Regions from separate parts of the Homo sapiens genome. Here region 1 is linked to region 2. Evidence: fine-mapped expression QTL. A gene starts in region 2. The other region holds a variant in brackets. All regions are shown on one strand. Distances are between the middles of the regions.

Region 1 (4,393 bases), 100 kb after region 2:
ACAATTGCACGGGAACTTGTACAGTATAAAGTGATGTAAAGTTTAAATGCCCATACATCAGACAATTTATTGTTTGGGCTAGCCTACAGGTGTGGTAAAAATGATAAGGAAATGATAAACTCAAAATTCAGGATAATGGCTACTTCTTAGAAAAGGATAAAGGGATGATATCAAGGAGGGAGGAGTACTTCAAAAGTATTGTTATATTCTATTGCACTGGGTAGCAGATGCTCAGATGTTGATCTCATTTATGCCTGAAGTCTTTGTTCTATGAATGTCTAAAATATATCCTAATGTTTTAAAAGGTAAAATGGCCAGGCACGGTAGCTCACACCTGTAATCCCAGCACTTCGGGAGGCTAAGGCGGGTGGGTCACTTGAGGTCAGGGGTTCGAGATCAGCCTGTCCAACATGGTGAAACCCCATCTCTACTAAAAATACAAAAATTATTGTATTTTTACAATACAATTGGGTGTGGTGGCATATGCCTGTAATCCCAGCTACTGGGGAGACTGAGGCAGGAGAATTGCTTGAACTTGGGAGGCAGAAGTTGCAGTGAGCCAAGATTGTACCACTGCACTCCAGCCTGGGCGACAGAGCAAGACTCTGTCTCAAAACAAATAAATAAAAATAAAAGGTAAAATGAGGACCTTAGACACCACTTATTCTCACATATACTCCAGGAAATTAAAGCTCACAATATTTTCCTTGACCCGTCTTCTTGGGACTTCAGATTAAAAGTCGGTATTCTGACTGTGAAGGGCTAACTTCCTACTATTGCATACCACCTCCCATTCAGATGTTATAGATGGAAGATACATTTTGATTATACAAGAAGCCCTAATATGCCATGAAAGACATATAAATCATAAAGATGCAAACACTATGCTTAAATTTAATCTCCCTAAAAGTTATAGTGTAGTTTTTGGAATTAACAGCAATTACAAATATAAGAGAACTATCTGAACAAAATTCCAGAGAAATTCCATTTCTAGGTAAGCTGAGATCTCTGGTCTTTTTTCCCCTGGGGATGTTGGATGAGTCTGGGCTGAAAAGGCAGAGTGAAAGCACCCATAGTTTCATGAAGCTTAGGAGACAACGTCCTGCTAGAGGGAGCAGGTGTCATTCTCAAGACATTTAAAACCAGAGGCAAACTGAATCTAACTAAAGCTACATCCCAGCTCTCATACAGCTCAATACTCTCTGCCTAACAAAGGAAACATGAACCCTCTCTGGTGGAAAATACCATCCACCTTAATTTCTAACGTTCTTTTATATACAATCCCCAGAAAATACATACAATGTCTAGGAAATGTGGCCAAAAAGCAGAAAGAAAAGCGGATTGTATAAGTAGACCCACAGACAATCAAGATGCACAGACAAGGGCTTTAAAATAACTATAAAAATATGTTAAAATGGAAAAATTTTAAAATACGTTAAAAATAGAGAATTATAATTTATAAAAAACGAAATGGAACAGAAAACAGTAGTTGCTGGGGGAAGGTGGAAGGGTTGACTACAAAGAGGAACAAATTTTGGGGGGAGATGTTTTATATCTTGTGTGGTTAAAAGTCACAGAATTGTACTCTGTCAGATGGATTTTGGATGTAAGTTATACTTCAATAAACCTGACAAATAATGGAAAAAAAGAATAGAATGAACATCTAGAGCTGGAAAAGTGAAATTAGGAAATTCTTTTTTTTTTTTTTTTTTTTGAGATGGAGTCTCGCTCTGTCACCCTGGCTGGAGTGCAGTGGTGCAATCTTGGCTCACTGCAAGCTCTGCCTCTGGGGTTCATGCCATTCTCCTGCCTCAGCCTTCCGAGTAGCTGGGACTACAGGCACCCGCCACCACGCCTGGCTAATTTTTTTTGTATTTTTAGTAGAGACAGGGTTTCACCATGTTAGCCAGGATGGTCTCGATCTCCTGACCTCGTAATCCACCTGCCTCAGCCTCCCAAAGTGCTGGGGTTACAGACATGAGCCACCACACCCAGCCAGGAAATTCTTAAATAAATTTGTAGTAAAGTACACATATCAGTCAATAGGAAATCAAACCAAAGCACAGAGAAAAAAAAAGGAATAGAAAAGAGTGATCAAAATGCAAGATATGTGTGGGGCACTGTCAAAATATCCAACTTATGTATCACTAGAGCTTCAAACAGAGAGGAGAGAGAATTGGACAGAAGTAATATTTGATGGGTGAAAATGTTCAAAACTGATAAATATATTAACTATAGATTCTAGATGTTTGGTGAACCCACAAGTAGGATAAATGTAAAGAAAGTTACACCTATACATCATAAGCAGACATCTGAACTCTAAAGATAAAGGACTTTGGGAGGTCAAGGCAGGCAGATCACTTGAGGTCAGGAGTTCGAGACCAGCCTGGCCAACATGGTGAAACCCTGTCTCTACTAAAAATACAGAAATTAGCCAGGCATGGTCGTGGGCACCTGTAATCCCAGCTACTTGGCCCAGCTTGGGTGACAGAGTATGATTCCATGTCCAAAAAAGAAAAAAAAAAAAAGAAAATTTGAAAGCACCTGGGTGATAAAGATACATTGCCTACAAAGAAGCAACAATAGGACTGCTGACTTTATAACAAAAATGATGGAAGCCAGGAGACAGTGGAATGGCATCTTAAAAGTAAAGGACAAAAAAAAAAAAAAAA[AAC/C]CTACTGACATGGAATTCTATAAATTATTAAAATTCCCTAAAAACTAAAAGAGAAACACATATTCATACAAACAAAAATTGAGCAATATTTTGTTTTACCAGTAGACCAGCACTACAAGAAATTTTAAAGGAAGTTATTTGGTTTGCTGGAAAATGATCCCAGATGAAAGAAGTGAAGAGGGCTTGAAAGGGTAAATTATTGGCAAATATAAAAGAATATTGAGATTTAAAACAATAACAATGTCTTGTAAGGCTTATGCAAATGCAGAAGTAAAATATATTACAATAATAAGACAAAGTGAGAGGATAAATGAAGTAAAACTGGTGTGGATATTTTATTGCTGAGAAGTTGTAGAAAATGATAATTAAAGGTAGATGGTAATAAATCAAGGTTCTGTATTATAATTTCAAAAGAATAATAAAGTAGGGCAAAACTGAAATGCTAATAGATAAGATAAAATAGAGAAGGTAAAAGGGAATAACAAAATACTGGATTATTCAATGTATTTAATCAAATAATTAAATATTTAAGGACACACTTTTAAATAAGTCAGAAAAAATGAATTAAAAGAACAAATAGAAAAATAACAGAAAAATGATGGACTTACAACCATCTAGATCAGTATATTATAGATTGAAATAGCCATTTAAAATTTTAAAAGTAGACTGAATTACAAAAATTAGAATCAACTATATGTTGTTTACAAAATGCACAAAAAACCCACCTTAATTATAAGGAAACAGATTAAAAGTAAAAGGATGGAAAAAGATATGTAAGATATGTAAATTCTAATAAAAAGAAAGCTAATATGGCTATAGTAAAATCAGATTATTATGGCCTGACTTTGCTGCTGGGTCTGCTGTTCCCACCCCTTTAAAGCTGTTGGATGTCAAACATGCTACATAAGAACCAGAGGCCACAAGTAATTCAAACGTTTATTCCTCATTCAGGACTACACAAACTTATGAAGTGTGAAGAGTCCCTGGGTGAGGTAGCCCACCACCTGAAAGAAGTCTCTCTAATGTTTGGGTAGAGTGTGGGGGAGATAAGAGGGAAGAGAGAGAGATAGAGAGAGAGAAAGAGAGAGAGAGAGAGAGAGAGAGAGACCTGTGTGATGTAGCTAAAGCATTAATCTGAGGGAAATGTATAGCTTTAAATGCCTACGTAAAAAAAGAGAATTTGAAAAAATCAGTGATTTCAGTTTCCATCTCCAGAAGCTGGAAAAATAGTAACTTAAGTCCAATGTAAGTCAAAGGAAAAGTATAATAGAGCAGAAATCAATAAAATACAAAGCAGATAGCTGACAGAGAAAATCAACAGACAAAAAGTTAATACTTAGAAAAGGCTAAAAAAGAAAAAAGAGGTCAAACGCGATGGCTCACGTCTATAATTCTAGCATGGCAAAACCCTGTCTCTACAAAAAATACAAAAATTAGTTCGGTGTGGCGGTGCACTCCTGTAGTTGCAGCTACCCAGGAGGTTGAGGTGGGAGAATCATTTGACCCTGAGCGGTGGAGATTGCAGTGAGCTGAGATTGCGCAACTGCACTCCAGCCTGGGTGACAGAATGGTACCCTGTCTCAAAAAAAGAAAAAAAAAGACCAGGAAAAAAGAAGATAAATATGAATGATCAATATCATGAATGTAAAAGAGGACATCACAAAACATTATACAGAAATTAAAAACATAAAATATTATTTACAACTTTATGCCAATAAT
Region 2 (4,393 bases):
CAATAGTATTATAGTTCACAGTCCTGAGAGCTTTATGATTTGCTGAGGAAGAGCCCAGGGAACAGGAATTAAATACAATGCTAGAAGTGCAAGTAGAAGAATAGAAAAGATGATGATGATGATTAGTAGTAGTCTATAGGACTGAGTGGCTACCTCTGCCCATGGGGAAGAAAGCATTCTTAGTGGTGGCAAAAATCTATAAAGGCACTGAAAACAAGAACTCAGGAAAAGAAAACCAGAAGTGCCAAGGGCCCTAAAATAAAACCAAACCCTTATGCTTTATTTAATAGTGGACTATAGCACAATTCCCTAATAAATGTTAAGATTTCTACATGTAACACTCATAAACTGATAAGGCTAGTCTCAGAAATGTTTTCCAGGCTTCCAATCGTGTGTGTGTGTGTGTGTGTGTGTGTGTGTGTGTGTGTGTGTGATCTGTGTATAATGTCAAAGCTTTTTTTCACATTTAACCTTACTAGCAATGTAATCACCAATTCCCACTACTAATCTACATTTCATCAGTGGTCTAAGTTATTGCTTTCACGAGTTCCCTAAAACTGGGGGAATTGTGAAGTAAAACTGCAGACTCATCCAACCACTTTCATACTGACATTTTCCCCTCTAGTAGTCAATGCTTCTAGCTGGTTTTCTCTTTCACATTTTGGTCTCAGCCAGACAGGACTAGTTAGGACTTCCAGACCACATAAGGAATTCTCCTTACGTGGTGCAATGTCACCTGGTCACTGAAGTAACACTTCCTTTTTTTCTTCCCCTCTCCTCTAGAGATCAAGGAACCTTATTATGGAGAAAATTAATGGATAAAACTACATATATATATCTACAGCAGGCATGATGACATAAATATATCAATACATTAGTCTATTGTCCAGTATGGGTCGTAAGTACGAAATGCTAAAATGGTAAATCCACAAGAGATAGTAGTAATCTTCATTACTTGGGGAAAGCAACATCTCCGAGGTTATGTTTTCTACTAAGGAGCATCAATAAGCTAGGTTATGTATTTTGCACTTACTATAAAAATACTTTGTTAAACTGCTGCTATTGTAGAATTTTAACTTTTTATTCTCCTTAACAAAATAAGACCGTTTATTGTATAGAATTTGGAAGACACAGAAAAACAAAAATAAATCAGTCACATCCACCAAAGATGATTCCATCTTCCTCATTTTCCAGCAGTCTTCTTTAATTACCTTAGTTAGAAAACTACAAGATTTAACTGAGCATATAATTTTTCATATTAAGAAAGGTGTAATTTAAATTTTAAAAATCAAATTTGTAATATTCGTAAGACCTTCAATTGAAAAGCAGCATGGAATTTTCTGAGTTTGCAGTATAAATAAAAGAGTTTAACCACAAACTGAAAAACATTCTTCCCTAAAGCACATTGTTTGGGATCAAAACATTGGTAATAATACATTATGGACGGAATGGGAGTACTTGGGTTGGACAACACCTGTATTTTCAATTGGACAACAATTTCTGTATTTTCACAAAATACTATTCATCAAAATCTGAAGAGGGCACCGGGAGTTTTACAAATGGGGAAAGCTAAAGAGGGATACAAATGCTACTTAACCTAAATTTACCACAAAGCCGATCAAGGAATAGATTGGGAGTGCCAATTCAGTAGTATTTTAGGGGAAAATGACAAAAAGGGAAGGATTGACGGCAGAAAACATGTGCAGACAGCAACATCTCGACTTGATTCTACCTTTAAGCATATGGCCAAATCAATTTGGTTTAACTATTTCCAACCCAATCAGTTTCTTATTTCGGTTTCAGGGAACCCTACTCACTCTTCCCTAAACCAGCCTGGGCCTCCTGCACACCACAACACCACAATACCATCTTTCAACGCCTCCTCATTCAATCGAGACTGTCGCATTACTAACACCTCCTGTTTTGAAGACAGTATTCCTTCAACTGTCCTCTCTGCAGAGAAGAAAAAGTAAAAGCCCTTCTTTTACTTTTCTAGTCCCATCCGAAGCACGTGAACATCTACGGAACCTTCCCTGCAGGTATGTCAGATAAAATCCTTAGAATCACTGAGAAAGCACATTCGGAGGGAAGCTTCACAGTGACTCTGCAGTGAGGGCCGTATCAGTGACAGTCCCTCCCAAGCCTGTCTCACCGGAGACGCCTCTGCCTCCAGGGTTTTTGCTACCTCCCCGCTCCTCAGCCCTGAGCTGAGGGTAAGGACAGTGAGGACCTTTGCCAAAGAATGGGCTTTAAGGAATGGGACCTAATGTCTACTGCAGACCCTGTGAAATGGCTGAAACAATCTGCTACCCGAAGCCCCAAAGGCTCTGAGTAGGGAACCATAATGGCCGCACTCACTTCCAACCCTGGGAAAGGTGGACATCTGAATCCCCAAGTAGCGGGAACGACCACACTTGGGGGAGCGGGGGTTAAGGAGAAATGAGCTCCTTGCCGGTGCAGGGTGACAGCGGGGAGGAAGCCTCAGGCAGAAAAGTCGCCGTTCACACTCTCCCTTCTCTCCTTCCTCTGCCTCCTTCCACCCCCTCTATCCCCACCACTCGCCAGTTACCGGTCGCCGCTCACCTGCTGGGGCGCGAGGTGCAGAGACTGTACCGACCGAGGACCCAGAGGCTGTCACCACGGAGGGGAAGTCCTCAGCTGCACAGGTTGGGGGGGGGGGGGGGGGCGGGCCCAACCAGTCACATGACGTCGAGCTCCGCCCTGCCTCCTCCATCCCAGCGCTCTACATCTCGGGGGGCCTGAATTTTTACGGATCCCTTGAATATTAATTTTCTTGGATTAAAGAAATAAAAGATAAATTTTCACAAAGAGTATGTTATAAAGTACAATGTGGAAAATGTGGACAGCAAGAGTTAAAGCGCATTGCTAAGGAAGTGACGTTCACGCCACAATCGAGGGACAGGAAATGGCGGTGGCGTTCCGTCCCTCTGGAGTCCGCCGGTAAAATTCCAGGCTCTGAGGTTTGGGCCAATCACGTGATCTTAAAACTTGAGGCGTGCTGGAGGGTAGCCAATCTATCTGGCCGATTGTTAACTACGTTTGTTTTAAAACACCTAACTTAAACTTGAGCTTTCCACAGATTTCTTTACATTTAGAAGAACTAACTTTATAAAACCCTACTAGGAGGCAACAGCGTTTGAAGGTCACTCTGGAGACCACAAACTGGGAAGAACGGGGCTGAGAAAAACTATCTTGCGGATATGGGACAAGAGAGGGAGGGGTGGAAAAATCTGGATTTTACCGCCAGGGCCTACCGAGCCAGCCCCACAAGCAGTGTCGTAAGCGGGTGGGAGGGAGGAGCATGACCCCAGAAGGCCCAGTCCAGGAGAAAGATGGAGGTTCCGGAGTGGAGGGGGCAGGGTGCGCGGAGGCGAGCAGTGCGGCTGCGCGTGAGGCGGCGGCGCGCCGGCGCGCGAGGGGCGGGGTGAAAGGTCACAGCGCGGCAGCGGGTCTGGCTGGCGGCAGCGGCGGGAGGGAGCCGAGAGACCCGAGTGCACGTGTGGAGAAGCGGCGGCACAAGCGCGGCGGCGGGAGACACTCCCGCCCCCACCAGACTCAAGCCCTCACTCGACTCTCGCGGCCTTCGTTGCTCGCACAGCTCCCTGCCCAGGCTAGGAGGCCGGCTTGCGGGGTTGAGTGGCCCGAGCTAAGGGTGCGGAGACCTAAGGGCGGCGACTACGACGGCGTTGATATCGGTGGTAACGACGGCCTCAGCAGGCGGGGAAGATGAAAGGGTGAGGAAGGGCAGCCGGGCAGGGCCCGGCCGGTGGGGTAGAAGGGTCCGGGCCCATGTAGAGGGGGAGAGCCGCAAAGGCGAGGAGAGATTCAGGGCGAAGACGGGCGGAGGGAGATTTCTCTGCTTCTCAGTTCCCTCGGCTCCCGGAGGGGGCGGAGGCGAGGCTCGGGCTGTTGGCGGGCTGAAGGGCCAGCGGAGGCAAGACCCGGGGGGCTTCAGGGTTTCGGTTCGGAGACGAGTGTGGGTTGTTGAGTGGGGAGAAGCGACCGAGTGGGGCAACATGGAAAGGCTATTGTGAAGCGCCCGGGGCCTCCTTCCCGGGAGCGGACCGCTGAGCCACGCCGGCCCGCAGCTCCAGGTGGAGTGGTTTGGTTGTCTTCCACCTCCAGACTCAACTCTGGAACTGCGGTGTTTGACACCTTTCAGTTTAATTCACGCTTGGGAGCTGTGCAGAACCTTCTGGAGGAAGAAGAAATTGGAATAAAGAGCACGGGGATGAGTATTAAGAGCTAGTGACTCAACTAGATTTGGGTTGGGTCACAGCGAGTGGAGGAGGGGGAGAGAGCGCGATCACTGTAGACTTGGGGTGCCAACATATTTAAGGAAGTATAGGGTGGATCAGTAGGTGGAGCTGTT

Alleles and levels. Positions count from the first base shown, and alleles are read on the strand shown. Sizes are in standard deviations (SD) of each study's normalised expression.
For the expression in macrophages of the gene that starts at base 2,662 in region 2, allele C in region 1 goes with a lower level than allele AAC (moderate effect, 0.55 SD a copy in Nedelec 2016).

The links. PIP is the estimated chance that this variant, and not a neighbour inherited with it, causes the effect. A credible set is the group of variants that fine-mapping cannot tell apart.
Region 1: its variant is the best candidate, but not a certain one, in a credible set for the expression of ATP6V1A in macrophages (Nedelec 2016, PIP 0.64).

Annotation. Positions count from the first base shown.
Region 1 is chr3:113,643,587-113,647,979 of GRCh38, reverse strand. No RefSeq gene overlaps it. Among named protein-coding and RNA genes, the nearest start is that of USF3, 51 kb to the left of the region's middle. The variant AAC/C (reference allele first, on the strand shown) is at 2,673.
Region 2 is chr3:113,745,304-113,749,696 of GRCh38, reverse strand. ATP6V1A (ATPase H+ transporting V1 subunit A) reads right to left here and starts at 2,662. Exons shown (of 15, transcript NM_001690.4): 1 at 2,584-2,662. NAA50 (N-alpha-acetyltransferase 50, NatE catalytic subunit) reads left to right here and starts at 3,448. Exons shown (of 5, transcript NM_025146.4): 1 at 3,448-3,755. The coding sequence starts at 3,748. RefSeq lists enhancers at 2,705-3,074, 2,396-3,131, 3,132-3,867, 4,115-4,264, 3,868-4,393 and a silencer at 3,425-3,544.